Linked DNA regions of Homo sapiens. The protein of the gene in region 1 purifies or fractionates together with the protein of each later gene. This does not show direct contact. Each region holds a gene or a part of one and is shown in the gene's direction. Other genes may lie near its edges.

The links.
Region 2: the proteins of RUFY3 (region 1) and MELK purify together in Homo sapiens (affinity purification with mass spectrometry; one large-scale study listed by BioGRID and IntAct). This does not show direct contact.
Region 3: the proteins of RUFY3 (region 1) and MTG2 purify together in Homo sapiens (affinity purification with mass spectrometry; one large-scale study listed by BioGRID and IntAct). This does not show direct contact.

The regions. Positions count from the first base shown.
Region 1 is NC_000004.12:70,763,372-70,767,021, forward strand, and holds part of RUFY3 (protein RUFY3), read left to right. Parts: intron 1-180; coding exon 181-298; intron 299-1,103; coding exon 1,104-1,205; intron 1,206-3,650. UniProt on the Homo sapiens protein: ARL8 effector that promotes the coupling of endolysosomes to dynein-dynactin for retrograde transport along microtubules. Acts by binding both GTP-bound ARL8 and dynein-dynactin.
Region 2 is NC_000009.12:36,670,333-36,673,982, forward strand, and holds part of MELK (maternal embryonic leucine zipper kinase), read left to right. Parts: intron 1-665; coding exon 666-834; intron 835-3,650. UniProt on the Homo sapiens protein: Serine/threonine-protein kinase involved in various processes such as cell cycle regulation, self-renewal of stem cells, apoptosis and splicing regulation. Has a broad substrate specificity; phosphorylates BCL2L14, CDC25B, MAP3K5/ASK1 and ZNF622.
Region 3 is NC_000020.11:62,199,935-62,204,125, forward strand, and holds the end of MTG2 (mitochondrial ribosome-associated GTPase 2), read left to right. Parts: intron 1-748; coding exon 749-1,143; 3' UTR 1,144-3,149; coding exon of another isoform or gene 3,150-3,307; 3' UTR 3,308-3,634; downstream 3,635-4,191. UniProt on the Homo sapiens protein: Plays a role in the regulation of the mitochondrial ribosome assembly and of translational activity. Displays GTPase activity. Involved in the ribosome maturation process.

The DNA.
Region 1 (3,650 bases):
AGTAGAGAATTTTTTTATTTTCACAAAATATTATCTATTCTAAAAGCATGAATGAATCCAAAACCATCTTATAACCTAGGATTGGTTTCCTGAAAAGTTGTGTGTGTATGTGTGTGTGTATTGAGAGTGCGCTTATGTTGTAAAGAATATTAAAATACTGCTTTATTTTTGTTGCCTTAGCTAAAAAAACTTTTCTCGGACAAAATAAATCCTTCTGGGGGCCTCTAGAACTGGTAGAAAAGCTTGTTCCAGAAGCCGCAGAGATAACAGCAAGTGTTAAAGATCTTCCAGGACTTAAGTAAGTCTAAGGTTGAATTCCATTTCTCAGGAACAGCATTCTTATTAACTATCCCTTGAAGAGCAAGACTAAAGACAATTATGTACGAATAATTTATTTTATAACAATCCAAAATGCATGATGTCATGAATAGGTGCTGACAGGAGAGAATTGGTATACAGAATATTGAGAAAAATGTGCTCTTGAGGGATAATTATTCATCTAAGAGAGATTGTCTTTTTGTTGAAATGCCAAACATTTGCTTATTTTTTAAAGCACTTGGGAGAATCATATCTAAGGGGGTGGCATGCTGTACTTGACTTAGGGAAAAAAGGTATTCAGTGGGTTTGAGAGTCAAGATTAAAACAGCTGTCAAATTAACCTGAAGAGCTAGTGACTGTAGCCTGCCTTAGAACTATAAAGTAGTGACCACCTTCCCAAATGAGACTGGTTTAATTTTAATCAGACAGAGGCCTAGATTGCCTGTGTCCACATTCATGCTTTGGACATTTATATAATCCACACTGAATTTATAAGGATTTGCTATTATTGATCTGATGGAACATTTTTAGTTGGGTCTCCCAGAGGCTGTGTCTTCAAATTGTAGTTACATTCAGTAATTCTTTTTGAAAGCATTTGTTCCGGGTCACATTAGCCCACACACAAAAATTCCTTGCATGGGAATGTACTGGGAGAGGTCCTGAGGAGCACCTCAGTGTGCTTGTTACACTGGAATACCATTAGCAAGAATAAGTGAACTGATTCTACTGTAGCCTTTGCTTCTGGTGCTTATGTTTTCAGTTGTTTGATTTCTGTGTTTTTGTAGGACACCAGTAGGTAGAGGAAGAGCCTGGCTTCGTTTGGCATTAATGCAAAAGAAACTTTCAGAATATATGAAAGCTTTGATCAATAAGAAAGAACTTCTCAGGTATGAACACCTTCTTGAACTTTCTTCTTTCCTTGGTATGTTCTACATCGTATAAAGTCAAACCATATAAGTTCACTATTTTTGTAGATCAGAAACATTTGATTCATAACAGCTTCACTGATACTTTCTCTCATACCTCACACACATATCCTCCCAAATGGATGATTTATGTTATGTGTGTTCTGTCTGTCACTGTGGCATATATTGGTCCTTTCCAAGGCAGGCCAAGACTTACCTCTAGAAAACAGAAGGCACCTTAGCATGTGCCCAGGCTCAATAAGACAAGAACTTGACATGTAGCATTAAATTCAAATATAGCACAAAATTGGACGGGTGCAGTGGTTCACGCCTGTAATCCCAGCATTTCGGGAGGCCAAGGTGGGCAGACCACTTGAGGCCAGGAGTCTGAGACCAGCCTGGTCAATATGTCGAAACCCTATCTCTACTAAAAAAATATAAAAATTAGCCGGGCGTGGCGGTGGACACCTGTAATCCCAGCTACTTGGGCGGCTGAGGCACGAGAATCGCTTGGACCTGGGAAGTAGAAGCTGCAGTGATCCGAGAGCGTGCCACCACTCTTCAGCCCGGGCGACAGAGTGAGACTCTGTCTCAAAAAAAAAAAAAAAAAATGTGTATATATATATATATATTTGTAAAATCACAAAATCTTCCAGTAGATCATAGATACAACTGGGAGAGGCAAAACAACATTATTTTATCCGTCTTTATTATATGATTCCATTGTATAAAGGTCAAAACTAGGTAAAATCAATCTATGGTGATAGAAATCAGGATAATAGTTACCTTGAAGAGGTGGGGGTAGAGATTGGAAGAGAGAAAGAATCCGATTTCTAGGATTTCAGTACTGTTCTCTTTCCTGATCATGATAGTGATTACACAGATAGATGTGTTTTTTGTGAAAGTTCATGGAACTAACAGTTAGCTGAGATTTGGAAATGTGTGAATGTTGGAATTCAGCCATATTCCACTTCTGAACAGTTCATAAGGTTAGGCTTTTGGGACAATAAACTGTCAAAGAACCTTGTTCATTCCAGTTCTACTCAGTTTCCTTCAGAGGCTATCAAAGAACAAAAATAGCATGTGATCAGTTTTTGAGAGAAACAGTAAATTTGCAGCTCATTCACTTGCTGTTTTTGTGCTATTTTGTCATTTGTTAATATCTTTTTTTTTTTTTTTTGAGACAGAGTCTCACTCTGTCACCAGGCTGTAGGCTGTAGTGCAGTGGCGCTATCTCCACTCACTGCCACCTCCGCCTCCCGGGTTCAAGCGATTCTCCTGCCACAGCCTCCTGAGTAGCTGGGACTACAGGCGCACACCACCACACCCAGCTAATTTTTGTATTTTTAGTAGAGACGGGGTTTCACCGTGTTGGCCAGGATGGTCTCGATCTCTTGATCTCGTGATCCACCCACCTTGGCCTCCCAAAGTGCTGGGATTACAGGCGTGAGCCCAGCCTATTAATATCTTTTATAGTGAATCAGAAAAGAAATAAGGAACTAATATCAGTGAATTATATTGATTGTTAACAGTGATTGAGGTTGACCTTTACCCCCAGGTAACTTGTTGAAAACAAATTGATTGCAGTGTTGTTTTAATCATGATGTCAAATTGACTGAAAATGAATAATTCAGGTCACTGGGTTTTCGTGTTTTGTTTTGTTTTGCTTTAAGAGACTCGCGCTCTGTCACCCAGGTTGGAGTGCAGTGGTGCAATCACGGCTCACTGCAGCTTCCACCTCCCAGGTTCAATCGATTCTCCTGCCTCAGCCTCCCGAGTAGATGGGACTATAGGCATGCACCACCACACCTGGCTAATTTTTGTATTTTTAGTACAGACAGGGTTTCACCACGTTGGCCAGGCTGGTCTTCAACTCCTGACCTCAAGTGATCCACCTGCCTCAGCCTCCCAAAGTGTGGGGTTTACAGGCGTGAGCCACCGCACCCGCCTGTTTCCATTTTTTTAAAAAATCTAAAAGACTATTTTTTAGAGTGGTTTTAAATTTATAGCAATATTGAGTAGAAGGTACAGATATTTTTCATACATACCCTTCCCCCCTGTACAACCTCCCTCATTATCAACATCCCACAGGAGTGGTACATTTGTTACAATTGATGAACCTACATTGACACATCATTATCTCCCAAAGTTCATAGTTCACATTAAGGTTTACTCTTGGTATTGTATGTTTTATGGATTTTGACAGATGTATAATGATATGTATCCATATGTCATTATAGTACCATACAAAATAGTTTCATGGCCCTAAAAAATCCTCTGTGCTCCACCTATTCATCTCTCTGTCCTCCAACCCCTAATAACCACTGATCGTACTGTGATTGTACTGTTGTTACCAGGGGTTTACTGTCTCTGTGGTTTTTCCTTTTCCAGAATGTCATGTAGTGGGAATCATAGAGTATATGGCCT
Region 2 (3,650 bases), on another chromosome or scaffold:
TTCAGAACAAAAGGATAAAATATGCCTAATAAACAGCCATATGTAACGTAAACTTCTCAGCACACTTTATGGTGTTGTCTTTATGGAAGACAACATCCTTATTCATTGGAGATGTATACTGAAGTGTTTCAGAGTAAAGTGTCATGATATGTTCAGATGAGTTACTTTCAGATGGCTTAGCAAATAAGTAAATTTAATGTATTATCTACATACATTAAATTTATGTGTATATATAGATATATACATTGATGTATATATATCAGTGTATATCTATATACATATGTACATTAATATATTATCTATATCCAAATAGAAAGCAAATGTGGCAAAATATGAACAATTGTTGAATCTAGGAGGATATACCGGTGTTCATTGTACTCTTCTTTGAACTTTTCTATATATATGAAAAAAGGATATATATATCCTTTTTTAAAAAGGAAGGGGATAAATAGTTTTGCTGAGTGGCAGTTGCCTGGTAGAAGTGTGACAGCTCCTGTCCAGGGGGAGATGGCTTTGGTGCTTCCTGAGGAAGAGAGAGGTGATCTGGCCCTGGCATACCTGAGTGAGGCATCCTAATGTGTATGAAGGGACAAAAGTTCACCCTTGTGGACCCCACAGGCCGGAGGCCCAGCTCTACTTGTGCCTTGTTTTATGTTTTGTTTCAGGTGCCGCTCAGTGGAATTGGATCTCAACCAAGCACATATGGAGGAGACTCCAAAAAGAAAGGGAGCCAAAGTGTTTGGGAGCCTTGAAAGGGGGTTGGATAAGGTTATCACTGTGCTCACCAGGAGCAAAAGGAAGGGTTCTGCCAGAGACGGGCCCAGAAGACTAAAGGTAAGCAGGCTGGAATTCTTTCATATGGAGCAGAAGCTGACTGCTAATGGACTGCCTTTTTTTTTTAAGGTGCTGAATGAATTGATTAGTGTTTTTTATTTGAGTATTTATTCACTTAGTTAATATATGTTTTTTGAGCAACTAAAATCTGCATGTTACTGTGCAGTCAGTAAATAGATACAGTCACTCCCTTCAAGGAGCAAACAGCTATCATTCAAATATTCAAGAACAGGTGGAGGGATTAGTCACAGGGGCAACATGGAGGTGAGGAAGCAGGGGGCACAGATGGAGAGCTGAGAGCTGCCTTAAGGAGGGGGACTTGAGCTCAGTTGTGTCCCTGATTCATGGATACTTTGTAGGCCCTCATGAAATATTTGAATGCATGGGAAGATAATTGGAACTTTGAGTGTGGTGTGTGTCAGGAAAATAGTGAGTGACAAGCGGGGAAGGTAGGCCGGAAGGGCCTCAAGGCCTGGCTAAGAAGGTGTGGATCTTATTTAATAGACCCAGTATGCTTTAAAAGGGTTAATGTGTCACTGGTGTGGACAATATATTTAGTCAAGGAAGGAAAGGAAAAATAAGCTGTTAGTTGATATAAAGTACTTTTTATTCTCTTGGATTCTCTCTGAGCATTCATTCAAACATCTGATGAATACATGTTTGTTTGGTGGAAGGGGAGTAATTAAGAGGTAAAGGGACGAATGAGACAGCCCATTCCTTGAGGAACTCTTAGGCTGGCTGTGAAAACAGGCTGGGATGTTGTTCTGAAACACTGGGCTCAGTGCTATAGTAAAAACACATTCCAAGAGGTGTGGGCCCAAGCAGGGGAGAAGATGGTAGTGTGCCCATCATTTGGGGACTGGGTCTATGTTTAGTTTTTGCACTGAGACTCTCGTAATGAGCAAATCTGGGCGGTTTGAGGGAAGGAAAATGCTGAGCTTTTGGGCAGAAGGGTGTTTTAGAGGAGAATGTTCTGTGATCTCATTTCTGTTCTGTCTTAAAGTGGAAGAAGATAGGAGTTATCCACTAGCAGTCATTACCTTGAACTTTTGTAGTGTGCTGAGACGTTACATATGGCTGTGTATTAGGCATATTTTATCCTTTTGTTCTGAAATTTCTCTGGTTGGAGATAGTTAAGTATTTCAAGCACCGACACTGAGATTTAAAAAAACCATAGTACCATTGCACTGAAAAATGTTAAATAAAATTAAGGAAACTAGTTCAACCACATATATACACATTATTGAGAAGCTAAGCAGTTACCAAATACTAACGGATAATGTTCTAAAAATGGTCAGTTATGTAAATATTTTGGAACCTGAATGCATTTTTCAATAGAAACTACTGTGGTGTTAGTTGGCTTTCTAGGTAGTTCTCCAGTACTTCCAGAATGTAGGAGAAAAACCACAGGATTGGGAATGAGAAGACCTGGGTTCTGGCTCCAGCTTTGTGCTGTATAGCTTTGATAAATCATTTTATTCCTGATCTCCTCAGTGTCTTCATTTGTAAAATCTGGAAATAATGCCTACCCTGGCAACCTCACACGGCTGAGATGTAGAAACAAGACTCTACATATGGGATGCTACATGGCATATTAAATGCTTTATGAGTATAAGGTGACATGTTTCCAATGTCAAGGATTACTATCAGTGTTGAGCATTTTACCACCCATGTATAGACCCATGGTCCTAATTAGCACAGTCCTAAGATTGAAAACTTTAACTTTAGATCATTAACACTTTTTAATGCTTTTAAGTTTTTGCAAAACTGAAGGACTTTCTTTGGGAAATTAACCTTATTTTTTTTCACCTACTTCAAATACTGTACTAAAAACTATACACTTACCGGAAGAGTTGCAAGGATAGTAGAAATAATACCTTAGTTTTTTAAGATAGCAAATCATATGTAGTTATGTCCTCTTTTAGGAAGCAGTCTATAAAAAATCCAAAATTTAAGTAGATAAATTAGGATTCATTCTTTATTTTACCAAAGCAGTAATATATTGTGATTTGAAGGTGTTCAGTTTATTATTAATATCATCTTAACAGAGCCAATTTAGTTTGGTGAAAAGAGTGCTGGATCAGGAACCAAGAAAGAGAGGGTCCCTTCGTTAACACTCAGTTTCACGACATTTGCTCTATGGGTGTATTGGGTGCACTATTATTTATCTGGTATTTTCATTATGTTGACTCTCCTTTAACAAATGGATTTATAGAGATATAACTGACATATAATAAACTTGCACATATTTTATTTTATTTTATTTGTTGTTAATTTTTTGAGGCAGAGTCTTGCTCTGCTGCCCAGGCTGTGGTGCAATGGCATGATCATAGCTCACTGCAGCCTCAACCTTCTGGGCTCAAGTCATCCTCCTGCCTCAGCTTCCTGAGTAGCTGGGATGCGTGCTACCACACTTGGCTAATTCTTAATTTTTTTTGCAGAGACAGGGTCTCACTATGTTACCCAGGCTGGTCTTGAACTCCTGAGCCCAAGTAATCCTCCTGCCTTGGCTTCCCAAAGTGCTGGGATTACAGTCATGAGCCACTACACCCGGCCAACTGTGCATATTTTAAAGTACAATTAATATGCTTTGGCATTATATATAACATCTGTGAAACCATTGCCACAATCAAGATAATTTTTTAAAACTCAAATTTATTTAAAAGGAAACCTTTATATCATTAGGGTTTTTTTGTTGTTGTTGTTAATTATGTTTTCGAAATCAGTTGGGAACAAATACATATTTAAAAATATTTATCCATGTGCCACCCAGAATTACCTTGTCTATCTTGTATCACACTATGAGAAGCACTACC
Region 3 (4,191 bases), on another chromosome or scaffold:
GATCTGCCCCCCGCCCCACCTTGGTCTCCCAAAGTGTTGGGATTACAGGCGTGAGCTACTGCACCTGGCCCTAATTTAAACAATTTTCATCAGCCTGTTCTCTATGAAAATCAGGTTCCCACCCCATCCCCTAGGAATCTGTCAGTTACAGTTCAGAAACCTGCATTGAAATTCCAGCCGAGGACAGTATTTCTTCCCACTCTATTTGTCCCCTCTCATCTGTGGAAGCTCAGCAGCATCACAACACGTGACTTAAAAGCTTTCCTTGTGCCGTTTGAGAGAATAAAACTTTTTCCCAGAAGACAATACACCCATTAAAAATAGTAAGCCTGCTGGTAAGGTTATTTGGATGGCACTTTATATCTGCAGAGTACTCTACATGTAAATTTCTATCAGTAATCAAATGATTAGTAGAGTACAGGCAGCCATTTTCCTCTTTTTTGAATCCTATTAGAAGCAGAAAGAGAAGGTATGAAATGTACTCTACTAGATAGATCCATCGCCACGCTGGTCTCCCAAACATCTCCAAGCATTGAATTCCTCAGGTGTCAGTTGGCCCAGTGAATCACCCAGGTGCTAAATCAAATGGCTTCAGTTCAAGGCGTTCCTTGAAAGGAAAGTGTTAGAACTCAGGAAATCCGCCTTCGCAGTGGGCTCCAGGCCTTCTCTCCCAGGCTCGAGGTGGAAGGCGCTCTTGGGTGCTGGGTGTGCCAAGTGGTCACCTCGTGTGCCCCTGTCTTCCCTGCAGTGGCCGACATCCCCGGCATCATACGAGGCGCCCACCAGAACAGGGGTCTGGGGTCCGCCTTCCTCAGGCACATCGAGCGCTGCCGCTTTCTCTTGTTCGTGGTGGATCTTTCTCAGCCTGAGCCGTGGACTCAAGTTGACGATTTAAAATATGAACTGGAGATGTATGAAAAGGGCCTGTCTGCGAGGCCCCACGCAATCGTCGCAAACAAGATTGACCTCCCTGAAGCCCAAGCCAATCTGTCCCAGCTCCGGGATCACTTGGGACAGGAGGTCATCGTGCTGTCGGCGTTGACCGGCGAGAACCTGGAGCAGCTGCTGTTGCACCTGAAGGTGCTGTATGACGCCTACGCGGAGGCCGAGCTGGGCCAGGGCCGCCAGCCGCTCAGGTGGTAGCCACGCCAGAGCGGGGTCGCCTCTGGGCCTCTGTCTGAGCAAACCTGGGTGTGAATTCGGTGGTTTTGAATGCATAAAGTGCCTTGTGGACACGGGGGAGTTGTGGTGCTTCTGGGTCTCTGGGCCCCGCCTGCTGGCCTGAGATGCCCTCATGTTGGGAAGCATTCCGTGCCCCCTACCCCGCCTGCCCTCCGTATTTCCTGCACCTGTCAGCCTGCACCGACTGATGAGCCAGTTGCTCATTTGTGCTGATTAACACCCCTAATAAGGGGTTGGGGTGCCCATAACGGGGTGGCCCTGCCGCTGACTCAGGTCTCCGCCATGCACGCGTGGACTCTCGGATGAGCTCAGCAGAACCGCACAGCCAGAGCCCCAGGTCAGAAGTGCAGACCAGGGTTCTCAGCACAGTGCCCGTCGTGCTTCCATGGCTTGCTACGGAGAGAGACCTCTGGATCCACACTGGGGCTGCGTCTGGCCCGTTGTCCAGCAGCCCTGCGGTACCGCAAGCCCAGGCACCAGTGTCTCGGGGGGCCTCACTGCTGCGCAAGGGGTGGGGCCGAGGATGCAAGTCCAGGCAGAGCGGCGCAGGCAGCTGTGAGCTTTTCTCCATCAGCCGTCTGAGAAGAGCAGTGAGGCCAGCTGCTTCCTGTCCTTCAGAACACTTCTCTGTGCTCAGTGGGAGCCAGGAAGCCTCAGGCTTCACGACTGAATGCACCCAATATCCGACCTGGCTGCGTGTTTCTGGCTGGGCTGCCGTGTGCACAGCAAGTTAACTAGAGGGGCTGTGGGCCATGGAACTGTCAGCGTTATTCTCAGAAGGCGGCCGTGGCATGGGCAGGGTATAGTGAGGAGTGGAAGGAGACGTGTGCCTGGTAATATGGGGCGGAATTTCCACTCAGCTCCATTTGCTGGGGATTTAAAGAGAACCCTTGTGCTACGCCAGGCAGTTACCGAGCCGAAGGGAGATGATGGGCCTTCGCCCCTCAGTGGGATGGCAGCTGAGGGGGCCCTGCATTTGACCGTCGAGACTGCAGCAGCGCCTTTCCTGTCTGTGGTTTAAGTCTTTGCAGTCAAGTACTGATGCATCCAAGCCAGGCCCATGCCTGGTGTCTCCCTGACTGCAGAGGAGCCCCAGGGCAAGGACAGCTCAGCTGCTGGCAGCCTGCCTGGCCCATAGACATCCCCCAAGTAGTCTCAGGCCTCTGACATGTCCCTGAGGGGCCCCTAAGAAAGAAAGTGGAGGGGACACTCCAGAGGCTGTCGTGGGAGGATCATGTGAGCCTGGGAGGTCAAGGCTGCAGTGAGCCGTGATTGCACCACTGCACTCCAGCCTGAGTGACAGAGCGAGACCCTGTCTCAAAAAACAAACAAACAAACAAACAAAAACAGAACATTCTGGGCACGGTGGCTCATGCCTGTAGTCCCAGCACTTTGGGAGGCCGAGGCTGGTGGATCACAAGGTCAGGAGATTGAGACCATCCTGGCTAACACAGTGAAACCCCGTCTCTACTAAAAATACAAAAAAATTAGCCAGGCGTGGTGGCGGTCACCTGTAGTCCCAGCTACTCGGGAGGCTGAAGCAGGAGAATGGCGTGAACCTGGGAGGCGGAGCTTGCAGTGAGCCGAGATCACACCACTGCACTCCAGCCTGAGCGACAGAGCAAGACTCCATCTCAAAAAAAAAAAAAAAGTGGAGGGGACAAAGAAGCAGAGAAGGATGATCAGAAGGGGACCCCCAGCCCTTGGAGGAGAGACGGCAGCCTCAGGTGAGATGAGCCGCAAGGGTCCGGGGCCGCGTCTCTGCACGCTGGGGTGGGGCGCGCTTTGCACAGCAGGCCGGTGCCTGGGCTTTCAGGAGCAATTCCGTTTTGATCTCACATCAAATCTGCAGCTAGAACATGACAGTCCTTTTACCCGAAGCTTTATTTTAATGTCTTATAATTTCAAAGGTCCTTCTATCCTAGAAACCAGAGATGGGTTTTGCATCTATTTGCTTTTTCTTTCAGGCCGCCACAAAGGATTTTGTGGAGTCGCCCCAGGCCTGACGGCGTTAATTATCCCTGGCTTTCATCTTGATGCTCTTGCAGGGGAGGCTCAAGATGCCTTGTGGCTCGACCCCTGCACGGAGCCCCCAGCCCAGCCTCCCCGTGGGTTGAAACCTTGATCTGGGCCTGACTGTGGCTGCTCTGGGGACATGCCCTCGTCCTTTGCTGAAGCTGAGGCTCCAGAGGGGGAGTCACTGCCACGAAGGTTGCCCAGAACTTTCCTTGCTGCAAAAAGCCCCAAGACTTCTCCCTGCCACACACACAGCTTTTGCCATCGCGTTCTAAAAGCTGACAGCTTTCTCTCCAACACTGTTCTCCCTGAGTAGGGTAAAGCTACACTTGGCTTCCCCAGTTTCCTGTTTCCTGCCTAGAAACAAATTTTTGTCAGTCTGCTTTTCAAATGGGATATATGATTCACATACCATAAAATTCACCACTTTATATAATTCAGTGGTTTTTTTGTATGTTCAGAAGGTTGTGCAACTGTCAAACTGCAAATTCCAGAACGTTTTCATCACCCCGAAAACAGACCCTGTGCCCGTTAGCGTGAACCCGCCTTCCCCCTCCCCCGGGCACCCACCCGTCTACCTTCTGTCCCCAGGGACCTGCCTTCCAGACAGATCCTGTAATTGGAGTGTACACTATGTGGCCGTCTGTGCGGGTCTTTAGTAGCCATGCCTGAGGCGGCCGACACCGCAGTCTTTAGTTACGGAAGGGACCGCGGGTGCAGGCCAACCCCCCCACAGTCAGCATGTGTGGGCTGCCTTGGACACAGGGTCTCTGTGTATCCCCAGCAGCCTCAGAACACCTGACCCAGAGACGGCGTCAGTAAGCGCTGGCAGGTGCACGGAGGATGGCGCTGGCATGAGGAGCCTTCAGGCTGCTCCTAGTTTTAAACTATTTTTACTTTTGTTTTTATTTTTTTAAGACAGAGTCTCACTCTTTCGCCCAGGCTAGAGTGCAGTGGTGCGATCTCGGCTCACTGCAACCTCTGCCTCCTGGG